2 separate regions of the Homo sapiens genome follow, and region 2 is reported to be linked to region 1. The links are microRNA targets in miRTarBase. Many come from high-throughput screens and were not tested one by one. Region 1 holds a microRNA gene; the other region holds the end of a gene's coding sequence.

Region 1 (7,120 bases):
CATTCCAGGCAACAAGAAGGAGGTTGGAGGAAAAGAAAAAGAGTCTTTTTTCCAACTGAGTTAGCTCCTTTTAAGTACTGTGTTCCTATTTTCCACCTCTAACTGCAAGGAATGTTGGTGACTTAGCTTGGCCTGCAAAATACCACATACTAGGTGGCTTAAACAACATAATTTATTTCTCACAATTCTCGAGACTGGAGAGTCCAAGATTAAGGTGCTGGCAAGGTAGGTTTTAACCTGAGGCGTCCTGCCTTGGTTTATAGGTGGCCACCTCTCACTCTGAGCTCAAGTGACCTCTTGTGCATATGAGAAGAGAGTGAACTCTGTGGTCTCTCTTCTTGTAAGGACACTAATCCCAGTGGATTAGGGCCCCACCCTTCATTAACCTTCATTGAACCTTCATTATCTTCTTATAGGCCCTGTCTTCAGTACAGTCACATTTGGGGTTAGGGCCTTAACATGTGGATTTTGAGAGGAAACACAGTTCAGTTCATAGTAGTTGGGAAATGTAGCCTTTTAGCTGGGTGCATTGCTGCCACACATAAATGAGGATCCTGTTAGGGAGGATGAAGAGGAGAATGGATGTTGGGTGACAGCTGATAGTTACTGCCACAGCGGCTGTTGTCTGAGTTTCCCAGGTTGGTAATGAGAACCTTGGGGTTGGAACCTTATGTAGTGTTCATTGGAGGCAGGTAAGGGTGATCTGTATAAAATAATGCACAGAAAATTATGAAGGGAAAGATGAGGGATATTTAGGAATTATTTTTATTTTGGGGGGTACATGGTGTATATATTTATGGAGTATGTGAGATGTTTTGATATGGGCATGCAATGTGTAATAATCACATCGTGGGAAATTGGGTGTCCATCTTCTCAAGCACTTTTCCTTTGTGTTACAAACAATCCAATTGTACTAGGAATTATTTTTGATAAAATATAGTCCCCATTCTGAAGAAAGTGATATCCCAAGGAAAAGTCAGGGAACTTTTTTTTTCTTTAAGAGTATAATTGTAGGCAAATATTTATGAACAAGTAAGGGCAACTTTACATCTTTATTGGTTTGTATTTTTCACCAATCTTCTCATTGGGTGTGTTTTCTACTGTTTATGTTCTTTCTTTCCTAGGCCTCTTACGTAGTTTAGGACAGAAATTGATTGACTCCAGAGTTTAATGGAAAGGTTCTGGTCCAGTTCCTGTATCTAGTCAGTCCAGTGCTGTATCTGTGTATAGTCCTGTGGAAGCCATTGTGGTTGTACCTACTGTTAAAGCAATTGCTGTGAAATGGACTCAGTTTTGCTGGAAAGATCGCTAGCCCAGTATAAAGACGAATGTATGAACATGCCTTGGTGATGTCATAACTGTGGCATGTTTTTCTGTGGTTTTTACAGCACTTTTTCTTTCTAAATGAGAAACTTGGAACTCTGGGTAGGAATCACATTCTCCTCTTTTAGCAGCTTTGCTGAGATGTAATTCACATATTCTGCAGTTACACATTTAAAGTGTATAGTTCATTTGCTTTTAGTATATTTAGTATATTTACAGAATTGTGCATCTGACACCTTATTCAGTTTTTGGATATTAGCCCAAGTAGGTACCCTGTATCACTTCGCTTTCAACTTATTCAGTTTTAAAAAGAAACTACAGTGAGCTAAACTATTAGTAGAGATATTCCATAATACTAAAATTTGATCTTTAAAATAAGACATAATATTGTAACTGTTTTCATTCTGTAATTTCTATATAGTAATGAAATATCTTTCATTTCAGTTCTCAAGAATGCTAGCATAAGTATTATATAGCAATGTAGTCATGAGAGTCATATTATATCATCTTTACCATATTCTCTTGGTTAGAGGTAAGTCACAGGTCCCACTCACACCCAAAGAAATATGCCTACACAAAAATACGAACACTAAGAAGGTGGGGATCATGAGGACTTCCTGGAGCCTGTCTGCCACAGCCCTTCAATTAGCGAACACTGTAAAAAATTTTGCTTCTGATTTACAAGTAATTTTAATTAACTTTTTTTCAGCTTCCCTCAGTGGTAGATTGGTGCTGTATATTTCACCAGTGATTTTGCCATTGAGATAGTATTTACTTGCCAAAGATTATAGAACAATAATCATTATACATGGAACTTCTTCATGTTAGAACTTTTTTCAGGCTTAATCTGTCTACTTCATGAAAAAGATTACCAAGAAGAGTTTCCTATTTTTGCCTAGACCTGATTTCCATCTTAAAAGATCAGTTCCAGCTTCATCTTCACCTAAATGGTCACTTATGCCACTGATTTCCGGGCTTCTTGTGATTCTGGATGCTAGAGTATCAAATAATATGGGTGAAAGGACTTTGAACTGAAAAGCACTTGTATGAATGAAAGCTTATCACTTAGTATGATTTGAAAGTCTGTTATTTGGAACACTGATTTAGTAAATTGTTATTTAGACCAAGTGTATGAATCTTTGAAGTGTAACTTTGAACCTTAATATTAGTACATACGATTATTCTCAGAGTGGGGGTAGATTTTAAAGTTCTAAGTTTTTTGGGAACCTTAAAGGTTGCTACAGAAAACCATTCTACTAATTGGAGAAAACTTTCCTAAATTTTGGAAGAAGAAAAATAATGACCAAGCACATAAACTTTGCTTGTTTGCATCATAGGATCAGAGTTTAAAAGAGATCCTGATCATTTAGTATGAAACTGAAAAATGTAGTTGATATTTAATGAATTCTTTCATTGTGTGTATGGTTGATAGTTTGTTCCTACACATTGGGGTTTGGTGTGTGTGTGAGAGAGAGCAAGAGAGAGAAACAGATTGATTTTACATTTTTCATTGGATTTACTTTTTTACAAAGCATGGTTAGAAGTTATTAATACTTTGATCTCCAGGTTGAGATTTTGGAGATGATTTTTTATTTAATGGAAATATGTAATGAGTGAGCTCTTTTGTCTACGAGCCACTCATTTTTTATCCCATTGCTTTATCGAACGAGGGCTGAAAATTTCAATTTTGAATAGCACATGGCAATTTTCCTCTTAGAGCCAGCTAGCTATTCAGTTAACTGTTCTCCCACCTCAGGATGGTATTAACAAGAACAGGACAGTATACTAAGGCACTAGTTCCCAAACATTACTGGAATCATCTGGGGGTCTTTAAAAATACTGTTTTCTGACTCCTGTCCCTGGATAATTCAGATGTAATTGCTATGGGACGATACCTGGGCATTGAGATTTTTAAAATCTCCCCCAGGTGATTGTAAGGTACAGCAAACCTTGGGAATAGTTGTACTAACTGAAGATTGAGGCACTGGAATAACTAATGTTGGGTAAGATAGGGTAAGAACTTTTTCGCAATAAGGTTTGCAGCTCTTGGGATTCTCACTTGATAATGCTGTTTGGATAAACCATCATCCAAGTTTGAATAAGATCTTATATTTAGAAATGAAAACTGATCTGCAGAATTAGTTTAATCAATAAATGGGAATTTTTAAAAATCTTCTTGGCAATTTGTTTTTATGAATCCCGTTGAAGCTGTGTCTATTGACTACCTAAATCTAGATCATTCTTAATCCAGTGTGTAAAAAACCAGGATGACACAAATGAAAAACTTCAAAAACCTGGAGGTCAGACTATTTTAGTAATTTAGAAAACATTTTTCCCACACATTAATCAGTACTAAAAGAAAAAAGTTAAAACCTATTTAAAATGTGGAAAAATTGCTTCCCAATATTTTAACAGAGAGAGACTGAGAACACACAGCATTGAGTCATCAGGAAAACTGAAGATCTCCCCTGAACAACACTGGGATTTCACTGCAGAGGACTTGAAAGACCTTGGAGAAATTGGACGAGGAGCTTATGGTTCTGTCAACAAAATGGTCCACAAACCAAGTGGGCAAATAATGGCAGTTAAAGTAGGTGATGCCATGATTATTTTTGGTACTTTAATCCATTAGGTGAAATTTCATGGTGCAGTAATACCACTGTTGTTGTGTTCCTACTTTTGTGGTAAATGTGGGTGTTTAAAAAATTGTTTCTCCAACTCCTTTGAGGGTGTTCTGTGTAGAGGTTTCTTATTGGTGGCACATTTTCTATCTCTTTGGAAACATGAGTGTATGAAGTGTGCATGTTGATTGCATTTTTGGCATGATGCATTAACATGTTTTAAACTTCAGGCCCTTCTACTGCCAAGGTGAGTTCAGGCTGGGCGGCTGCACCCCTGGGAGCAGGGCAGTGCTGCACTGAGCCAGGCGGGAGCTGGAAGAAGACGCAGCACACTGGGTTGGGCAAGGTGCGGGGCTAGGGCTAACAGCAGTCTTACTGAAGGTTTCCTGGAAACCACGCACATGCTGTTGCCACTAACCTCAACCTTACTCGGTCCTGACCGGCTCGGCTTCTGTTTGTTTATTTCATCTCTACTCAGTACTGCCCTGTTCCCTGGTTTTAAAGTTGTACTGAAATGCATACCTTGTGATAATGTTGTCACATTTTGTCCTTATTGTGTCGTGCCACTTAATATGTTCATTAAAAAAAAAAAATGGCCAGAAACAGAGATTTGATCCATAGACAATACCTGGCAAGCTTATGCTGGTACCTGTAAAGAACTGGTGGTTTCCATCTGACTCCTAGTTTCATGTAATTGTAATTTATTCATTTGTTTGTTTAGATGTTTAACAAATCTTTGCTGTATGTAAGATATTTCAGGAAAATCAGCAACAGGGGGAACAACTTGCAAAAACAAAGGAAAAAAAGCTAGCTGTGGCCATACCCTCTCTGAGCTTAAAATTCCTATGGGAACAAAAATGTTTCAGTTTACAAGAATTCAGAATGGATTTGCATATAGTCCAAGCTAATCATCTTCCTATTAGTGTCCTATTTTGAGAGTTTGTCAGAGTGGTTGATAAGAGTCCTTAGTTTTTTCTTGACATTTGAGAATGAATTTAAATTAAAATAAAATGCTTTCTGTGTAGAAGTCTGTTGTGAGCCAAACCTTACTGTAACTATTTTAGTATCCTTCACTGTTGAGCATTTCTTTTTGCTGGGTCATATGAAAGTAATGTTAAATTAGTGGTAGGGAAAATTTTTATGATTCTCTCTATGGGTTCCTAACATTGTTTTTGGCTGTATTTTTAAAATGTGGTGAGAACTATAGACTTTTCATAGGCAGGTGTATATACACAACATTTTGTATACAAACCGTAGACCTCTAAAGATGCACAGGTGAAGAACTCTGCATTATGTGTTAAAATAAAATGTTTTATTGGAATGTGAAATGATTTCTGTATTCCTATTTTGTGCCACTGCAGTGTAAGTGGAAAGAGTCATTTTATTTAGACTCCTGGATGAATGTTGTGTTGTCCCTTTGTGCTACCTGTGTGTGACATCCAGTTTTAGTTGGCTGGATCTTAAGGGAAAGGTTTCCTATATAGTTAAAGTTGTAAACTTTTCTTTCAGGTACTAGGGAAAGTAATTTTAAAAAATTATTTCCTGCTTTTTACAGTTTGTGTTATGTGTGCTTCAACTTTGTTGATGAACATTATTAAACATTTTAGTAATATGGATTGATTTTAGCCATTGTTAAAAAGGTCATAAAGGTAAAGAGGGTACTTCCTTTTGACACTTAAAAGTTTTTCTCACTGATTAATTTGATAATATTTTGGGTTGTATAATGCTTACTCAAGTTTTGTAGGAATTCAAGAATGAAAATAGGAAATTGTTGTCCATCATTTGTAATGTTACATTATCAGTGGCTACTGGCTACTGTGACAGTTCCAGTTGGGATGCTATTAAAAATCCCAGCTGTACTTGAAGAACTTTCAAGGCAGTCATGAGACCTACAAACTGGTTGCTGTCACATGTATACCCACCACATGGTACTACCTAGCTTCGTTTACCATCTCGAATTCTTGAACAAGCATAGCAGTTGGGGATGGGAGAGGATGGCAGTACAACACATCAATTAACATATAGTTGAGGAGTACCTTTGGATTCCATGACTTCATTAATACTGGAAGAATAAGTGTTTTTGCATTAATATGCATTAAAATTTGATACCAATTGATGACAGATGTATGCCATCTCTGAATTAAAGAATGCATTTATTATTGGTTTCTTCAAAGAAGAATAGTCTTTCATCACACTTGAGAGAGTTCATTCATTCCTCATTTAGGTACATTGACTGGATTGACAGGCACAAATATACAGAATCAATGTATGATTAAGGAGGTGTTTGATTTGAGACTTTACGGTTTTAAAGGAACCATGAGACGGTGGTTCACACAGCTGAGAGCTTTCCATTGCTGTTGGTGAAATGAGAAACACGCTTGAAGTAACTCTGTGCTAACATCTTAATACACACTTTGAGAATAAAGAAGGATTGCATTATTAGATGTTAAGCTGGAAATGATCCTTAAGATTTACTTGCAATATCTGTAGAAAAGTGAACTGTGATATTAGCTTGATTTTTTTCTTTGTATTATTCCTCATTTTTAGTTCTGAGGAATTCCTTCCCCAAATTTATTTTGCCATATATAAGAAATATTTGAAAAAGGTGACTTCTTAGTAACCAGAGTTAATTACCCCAAAGACTTAATCTAAAAATCAGTTTTGATATAATCAGATTTAGTGAGGTAACATTGTAAGAGTTATACTTAAAACAATTTTTTGATGTTTGGTTTGAGGACAGTCTCCCAAGCTATCGGTGAGTTTCTGCATTAGGACCTAAGATGTGAACATGGTTTACCCTTTAGTTTTAATTGCACGTGCTTGGGAAAAGGGTCTTGCTCTCCTGTGAGTGGGAGTAATTTGTATACTTGTGCCTGAATGACTAGTCTTAGGGCTGCCTAGGGCAAAGCCAGTGTTGCCTCTGGGGTTTCTTAAAGCTCAGGGAGAACAACCTTCAACTCTTACCAGGGATTTACTTCTAACTGTGATCAGTATCCTTTACAAATAACATTTATTTAGTGTCCTGTTTTGCACGGTGGTGGGGTAACCACTGAATGAAAACATTAGACATGAACAGTCACTGTCCTCTACATAAAGTAGGTGCCTGCTCAGCTCTCTGGCAGGTGGAAATGGGAGAGGATGGCAATACAACACATCAATTAACATATAGATGAGGA
Region 2 (7,120 bases), not on the chromosome of region 1:
TCAGACCAAGCCAATGAGGAATGGGAGACTGCATCAGAGAGCAGTGACTTCACCAGTGAGCGCCGAGGGGACAAAGAGGCACCCCCACCAGTACTGCTGACACCCAAGGCTGTGGGAACTCCTGGGGGAGGTGGAGGTGGAGCCGTACCAGGTATTTCAGCCATGTCCCGCGGAGATCTGAGCCAGAGAGCCAAGGATTTGAGTAAACGGAGCTTCTCAAGTCAGCGGCCAGGCATGGAACGGCAGAATCGGCGCCCTGGCCCAGGGGGCAAGGCTGGCAGCAGTGGCAGCAGCAGTGGAGGAGGCGGTGGGGGTCCTGGAGGAAGGACCGGGCCAGGACGAGGCGACAAGAGGAGCTGGCCCTCTCCCAAGAACCGAAGGTGGGTAGGAACAAACAAATTTATTGTGGTTTAAAAATTGGAGGAGGGGGAAAAAGCCTGAGGGAAAGATAAGTTTGGGTGGAGTGGAGATTGTGGCCTGAGGGGCCATGGGCTCTAGAATGTCAGTAGGATTTCCATGTCTGGCTAAGGCAACTGGAAAGCGGTTGGTAGGGTGTTAGAGTCAAGAACACCCACCTATGTATTCATTGCTGGTTCTTTGCTTTCCAGTCTGTGCATCTGTATGCATAGGAATCCTTAGAAGGACTCAAAAACACCTGGACTTTAATAGGGAAGAGAATAGGTTGTAAGCAGAAGTTGGGAAACATAACTTGTGGGAAAAAGTAACGATTTAGTGGATACTGGAGCTAATGCTCTGTTTTCTCCAGTCGTCCTCCAGAGGAGCGTCCCCCGGGGCTTCCCCTGCCTCCCCCACCTCCCAGCAGTTCTGCTGTCTTCCGCCTGGACCAAGTTATCCACAGCAACCCTGCTGGCATCCAACAGGCTCTGGCCCAGCTTAGTAGCCGTCAAGGGAGTGTAACTGCACCAGGGGGTCATCCAAGGCACAAGCCTGGGCTTCCCCAAGCCCCTCAGGGCCCCTCTCCTAGGCCCCCAACCCGATACGAGCCCCAGAGGGTCAACAGCGGCCTCAGTTCTGGTAAGCTGGAGGGGTTATGGGTGGGAATATCTCCATCCCCAGAGAAGGTCAAGTGCTGGAGGGAGCGGGTGGAGAACCTGGCCTAGGGACCCTGCTGCTGGGTGCGTTTCTGCAGGGAGCAAGGGTAGAAGAATTGGGAGGTGGAGTAGAGAGGAAAAGTTAGGGTCAGTGGCAGAGCCAGGCAGATGCTGACCCTTTTTCTCTTTCCCAGACCCCCACTTTGAGGAGCCGGGGCCAATGGTGAGAGGGGTGGGTGGGACTCCTCGGGACTCTGCCGGGGTTAGTCCCTTTCCCCCTAAACGTCGGGAGCGGCCTCCCAGAAAACCAGAGCTGCTACAGGAGGTAAGGGATGGGTTTGAGATTGTGCTTCACTGCACTCTTACTCGTGAAAATTCTTCTGGGTTATGTTTTCTCTGTTTTCTTTCCTGTTTCTTTCACTGTGTTTTTACTCCAGAATTCTCAGTATTAGTCTCCCATGTGTCTCCCTTGTTGTCCCCACACCCTGTGTCACCCCACTCTGTCCTGGCTTCCTATAATTCCCAATTCCCACCCAATTCATGTTTTGCTTCTGGCCCTTCTCATCTGTAGGAATCTTTGCCACCTCCTCATAGCTCTGGATTCTTGGGCTCTAAGCCTGAGGGCCCAGGCCCTCAGGCAGAGTCCAGAGATACAGGCACAGAGGCCCTGACCCCTCACATCTGGAACCGTTTACATACTGGTGAGTAAAGCTGAGTGAAAGGACTATGGTAGAAGGGTTAAGAATGAGAGGGGCTTCTGAACTGTCATCTCCTCACTTCTCTTCTGGTTGGTGCTCCCTTCTCCAGCCACTAGCCGAAAGAGTTACCGGCCCAGCTCCATGGAGCCTTGGATGGAGCCCCTGAGTCCTTTTGAGGATGTGGCTGGCACAGAAGTGAGTGAGGGTGGGAGGGTGTGTCTGAGCTGGGACTTTTTTGAGCACTGGTCATACCCCCCACCTGCTCTGGGTTGAGTCTGGAGCTGTTCTCTCACTTGGCTGTCCCCTTTCTGCAGTTTGTATGTGTGCATCAGTCAGGTATTGGGGTGCTTTCTACCCTGACTTAACTAGCTCCTTCTCCACTCCTCTCAGATGAGTCAGTCTGACAGTGGGGTGGACCTGAGTGGGGATTCTCAGGTGTCATCAGGTCCCTGCAGCCAGCGAAGTTCCCCTGATGGAGGACTCAAGGGGGCAGCAGAGGGACCCCCCAAGAGGCCTGGAGGCTCCTCACCCCTGAATGCTGTTCCTTGTGAGGGTCCACCTGGCTCTGAACCTCCTAGGAGACCACCACCTGCCCCCCACGATGGGGACAGAAAGGTAAAAGACCAAAAAAGGATAAGGGGAATGTTTCCAGGAATCTGACTTTGGCCCTACCTTTTTCTGCTTTTTCTCTCTGCGTGTGTGTTCTGGGCATTCCAATTTGGATTTCCCTTTCCCTCCCCCAATGCACTTTACTGTGTGCCCAATCCAGGAGCTGCCCCGGGAGCAGCCTCTGCCCCCTGGCCCCATTGGCACAGAACGATCACAGCGTACAGACCGAGGCACAGAGCCTGGCCCCATTCGGCCATCCCATCGACCTGGTCCCCCAGTCCAGTTTGGCACTAGTGACAAGGTCTGTGTGGGCTGGATCTGGGTATCCTGAGTTGGGTGGAGAGAAGGGAAGGACTAAAGGTGGGACATAGAGGACACATGTCTGTCACGGGACAATGTCTCCTGCCTTCTTGTGATCACAGGACTCAGACTTACGCCTAGTGGTAGGAGACAGCTTGAAAGCAGAGAAGGAGCTAACAGCATCAGTCACTGAGGTAAGTGGGAGTAAGAGTTTGGTGGAAAGGCCCAAGATTTCTGGGGAAGATTGCTGGGAGTGACCAGGGCGTCCAGGATGCCAGACATCCCTCTCCACGAGGCCTCTCCTTCCCAGGCCATTCCTGTATCACGAGACTGGGAGCTGCTTCCCAGTGCTGCTGCCTCTGCTGAGCCACAATCCAAGAACCTGGATTCTGGGCACTGTGTCCCGGAGCCCAGCTCCTCAGGCCAGCGCCTGTATCCTGAGGTTTTCTATGGCAGTGCTGGGCCTTCCAGTTCTCAGGTAGGCCCCGCTTCCCATTGCATGACCCCTTCAGTGAATAATAATTTTTTTCTGCCTGGTATGTATTTATAATCAAGCCTTTCTACGTTGCAGAGTTGTGAGATACCACTTTGTCACATCATTTTTCTCCCTACTTTTTGCTTCTATGGGTGGGATGGTGATCTTTTTTCTTGACCACAGATACTAAAGCTGTTTCAACCGTGCTCCTCTCCTGCAGATCTCTGGGGGAGCCATGGACTCTCAATTACATCCAAACAGTGGAGGCTTCCGCCCTGGGACACCCTCACTGCACCCTTACAGGTAAGACTCGATGCCTGTGGATCACAGAAGTACTTGGAGATGTGTTTCGGGGAGAGGGAAGGGGAAGACACAGTTCTAGGGTACTAGAAGCTAGTGGACTTAAGGCATTGCTAGGACTCTGGCTTCCTAACAGCTTTTCTCCCCACAATTTATTTTCAGATCACAGCCCCTATACCTACCCCCCGGCCCAGCCCCTCCCTCAGCACTGCTCTCTGGGTTAGCTCTCAAGGGCCAGTTTCTGGATTTCTCCACAATGCAAGCTACAGAGCTGGGGAAGTTGCCGGCTGGAGGAGTTCTCTACCCTCCACCTTCCTTCCTCTACTCTCCGGCTTTCTGCCCCAGTCCTTTGCCTGACACATCGTTGCTTCAGGTAAGAGGGGGGCAGGTATTAGATATTGGGGGATAGGGTAGGGAGAATGATTTTGTGGGGGTTGATATATTTCTCCCTGTTTCCCGACAGGTACGCCAGGATCTGCCATCCCCTTCGGATTTTTATTCTACTCCTCTGCAGCCTGGTGGCCAAAGTGGCTTTCTCCCTTCAGGGGCTCCTGCCCAGCAGGTATATTGTATCTTCACACTTCCCCTTCATTTGATTTCTCTGTCCAGTTGCTGGCTTTGATTTTCCCTGGTTTTCTGACATTCCTCCCTGCCCCCAACATGCACACCCAAATTTCTTGTTACAGATGCTTCTACCCATGGTAGACTCACAGCTGCCTGTGGTGAACTTTGGCTCCCTGCCGCCAGCACCACCTCCTGCCCCACCTCCCCTTTCTCTGTTACCTGTGGGCCCTGCTCTGCAGCCCCCCAGCCTGGCTGTGCGGCCCCCACCTGCTCCTGCTACTCGGGTGCTGCCTTCACCTGCCAGGCCCTTCCCCGCTAGCTTGGGGCGAGCAGAGGTAAGGTACAGGAACTGAGGGGCTAGGGAGCGCCAAGACTTGGGAGTAGGGATTCTGTATTTCAAGGTAGGCAGCTCATGATTTTTTTCCCCTCAGCTGCATCCAGTGGAACTAAAGCCGTTCCAGGATTATCAAAAACTGAGCAGCAACCTTGGGGGACCTGGATCATCACGGACTCCCCCAACTGGAAGGTGAAACGGAATAGGGATGTGGACTTTCCAAGTGCTTCCTTACTTTGGAACCAGGGTCTGGATCCTAGGCTTGCCTTAGACGCCCTTCTTCCCTTAGGTCCTTCTCTGGCCTCAATTCCCGTCTCAAGGCCACGCCTTCCACCTACAGTGGAGTCTTCCGCACCCAGCGCGTCGACCTTTACCAGCAGGTGAAGGAGAAACCCTTGTGGCCCCAACTCTAAATTCGAGTTGCCACCTGATTTCCTGTCCTTCCGTCTCATCGCTGACCTCTCACTGTGACTCACTGTTTAACACATGCCTGTCCCCTAGGCCTCCCCACCAGATGCCCTGCGCTGGATACCTAAGCCTTGGGAGCGGACAGGGCCGCCACCTCGAGAAGGGCCCTCCCGACGGGCAGAGGAGCCTGGGTCCCGAGGGGACAAGGAGCCTGGGTTGCCCCCACCCCGCTGAGGGAGTTCCTCTTGCCCCCTACCCCCGGGGCTTGTATATAGATTATAAATATATAAGGGGGAAAGGGGTGGGCGGGGAGGGGTTCTGGGGCTGGGGCCTCACTTCCCCTCCTCCCCCTTCCCCTGGTCCCCTGTCCCTGGGGCTGTTTGTTAAAAAAGAGTAATAAAAGGATTTAAAAAAAAAAACTTCTACAATGATTTGGGGGATGAGTTGTTTGCATTGTCTTAAAGCATGGTGCTGAGTGATCTGTAGTTTCAGTCAGGGAAATATTCATTACTTATTCCAGTGAGCTGTTGAAACTAAAAACATGACCATCGTATTGGATCTTTAAATTTTTGTGAGTCTGGAATTTGGGCTGAGCTCAGCTGGATAAATCTGCTTTTTTGTGCCAGTGAGCGAGGTCAACTGGTTATCAGTCTGCAGCTGACACCTGGGCTGGTCCCAATATGGCTTCCTTTGCATATCTAGGGCCTTGGTGGGACATCTGTAACATTACTGGGTTATCAACCAGTGTCTTCACATGGACTCTCCAGCAGGCCTGTTAAATGTCCGTGAGCTCATGTTCCAAGAGGTCTAGCTGGAATTTTCTAAGCTTATGCCATGCTTAGTTGATAAGAGCACTAAACTAGCCAAGGTAGGGGATGGGGGGGTTTAGAAGGGACTTCAACTGCATCTCAAAGGGACTAGCAAAGAATTTGCAGCCATGGGACTTCAGTTCTTTATGATGAACTAAGGGGAAATCTCTGTTAAGGCCTCAATGTTGGAGCACACTTAAGGGGCTCTTTGAATTGGATAGACCAATTCCAGCATTGTCAAACTAAGTGGGATTTCACATGGTAACGCTGCATGCTAGTTATGCTAAAGACTATACTTAGGTCTGCAGCTGCTCAGAAACTTTTTTTGATGGGTAATTTGAGAGCTCTATGCTAGTGTGCACCTGGAATATGCTCCCAACTCAAAATACAGGTTTTTTATTTATATATAAAGTGCTTTCGCACAAAAAATACAAACATCAGGCTGGGCGCGGTGGCCCACGCCTGTAATTCCAGCACTTTGGGAGGCCAAGGCGGGTGGATCACAAGGTCAGGAGTTCGAGACCAGCCTGGCCAATATGGTGAAACCCTGTCTCTACTAAAAATACAAAAATTAGCCGGGCGTCGTGGCGGACGCCTGTAGTCCCAGCTACTCAGGAGGCTGAGGCATGAGTGAGAATCACTTGAACCCGGGAGGTGGAGGTTGTAGTGAGCCGAGCTCGAGATCGGGCCACTGCACTCCAGCCTGGGAGACAGCAATACTCTGTCTCAAAAAAAAAAAAAAACAAACATCAAAACTGGCTTGTACAATTTAGCGTGCTGAGTAGAACACAACAGTGTTCCAAGGAAGTATTAATTTAAAAAAGTTCACACAAGATTAAGGGACACACTACCTAATGGAGACAATGTAGAGAGAAAGCAGCCAGAAAAATCCGACTTTTATTTCTTAAATACTGTGAAGGAAGAGGGGGGAAACGGTCCCCTGATGAGGAAGGGCCATAGAGCAAAGAGCTAAGGATCATCAGCAAAGGCCCGCTGGGCATTGGGGAAGCGCTGGGGACTGTAGTTGGGGTCTTCCTGCAGTCGTTTTTGTATATCAGACCGGAGCTAAAGAGAAAAAGTAAGCAGGTTGGAGAAACGCTGGCCAAGTCCCCATGATCCCAGCAAGCACACAAGGCCATCCCTCAGAAGCTAACATTTCCCCCCCCAAGCACACTGTCAAATAGCCCGGGGTGGCACTGTCAAGCCTTCCCAGATGCCAAAGGGGAAAACAAATGGTAGCACCAGGCTGACCAGTTCATCGCTGAAGGGATCCAGGGAAGAGGGACCCTAGCCCAACCCCTCCCACTAGACCATCCCTATTCTGCTTCAAGGTGGCACCTGCTGCCTGTAGCTCTCCTGAACCTCTGGTGCCTCCAGGTCCCGGCTCAGGCTCTCGGGGCTCGTCAGGGGCCGAGCTCCGGCTGCCTTAGCTGCCCGGCTCACAGCCTCTGAGAGAAGCAGCTGGGGGCCCTCACCCTGCATCGTCTGGGGGACAGGGGGTTGGGAGGGAAAAGAGGATCAACGTCAGATCCAGTGCCACCATCCGGCTCACCCTTTCCATGAGTCAACCA

Evidence for each region. The annotated mature microRNA hsa-miR-744-5p reads UGCGGGGCUAGGGCUAACAGCA and lies in region 1 at 4,292-4,313, shown strand. An mRNA with a match to its seed (bases 2 to 7 or 8) in the 3' UTR can be bound and repressed. Matches are read on the target gene's strand: a 7mer-m8 pairs with bases 2 to 8, a 7mer-A1 pairs with bases 2 to 7 and ends in A, and an 8mer does both.
Region 2: miRTarBase lists BAG6 as a target of hsa-miR-744-5p. The part of its 3' UTR that is shown has no 7-base or 8-base seed match.

The regions. Positions count from the first base shown.
Region 1 is chr17:12,077,618-12,084,737 of GRCh38, forward strand. MIR744 (microRNA 744) reads left to right here and starts at 4,282; the gene lies at 4,282-4,379. MAP2K4 (mitogen-activated protein kinase kinase 4) reads left to right here. Exons shown (of 11, transcript NM_003010.4): 3 at 3,739-3,913.
Region 2 is chr6:31,632,613-31,639,732 of GRCh38, forward strand. It overlaps BAG6 (BAG cochaperone 6), which reads right to left. Exons shown (of 26, transcript NM_001387994.1): 25 at 6,888-7,034; 26 at 6,416-6,614. The coding sequence ends at 6,519. It overlaps PRRC2A (proline rich coiled-coil 2A), which reads left to right. Exons shown (of 31, transcript NM_004638.4): 16 at 1-380; 17 at 767-1,035; 18 at 1,247-1,377; 19 at 1,624-1,753; 20 at 1,860-1,945; 21 at 2,141-2,365; 22 at 2,520-2,660; 23 at 2,782-2,853; 24 at 2,970-3,137; 25 at 3,355-3,437; 26 at 3,597-3,807; 27 at 3,898-3,996; 28 at 4,121-4,333; 29 at 4,430-4,524; 2 more. The coding sequence ends at 4,974. MIR6832 (microRNA 6832) reads left to right here and starts at 1,175; the gene lies at 1,175-1,246. RefSeq lists a silencer at 2,067-2,230.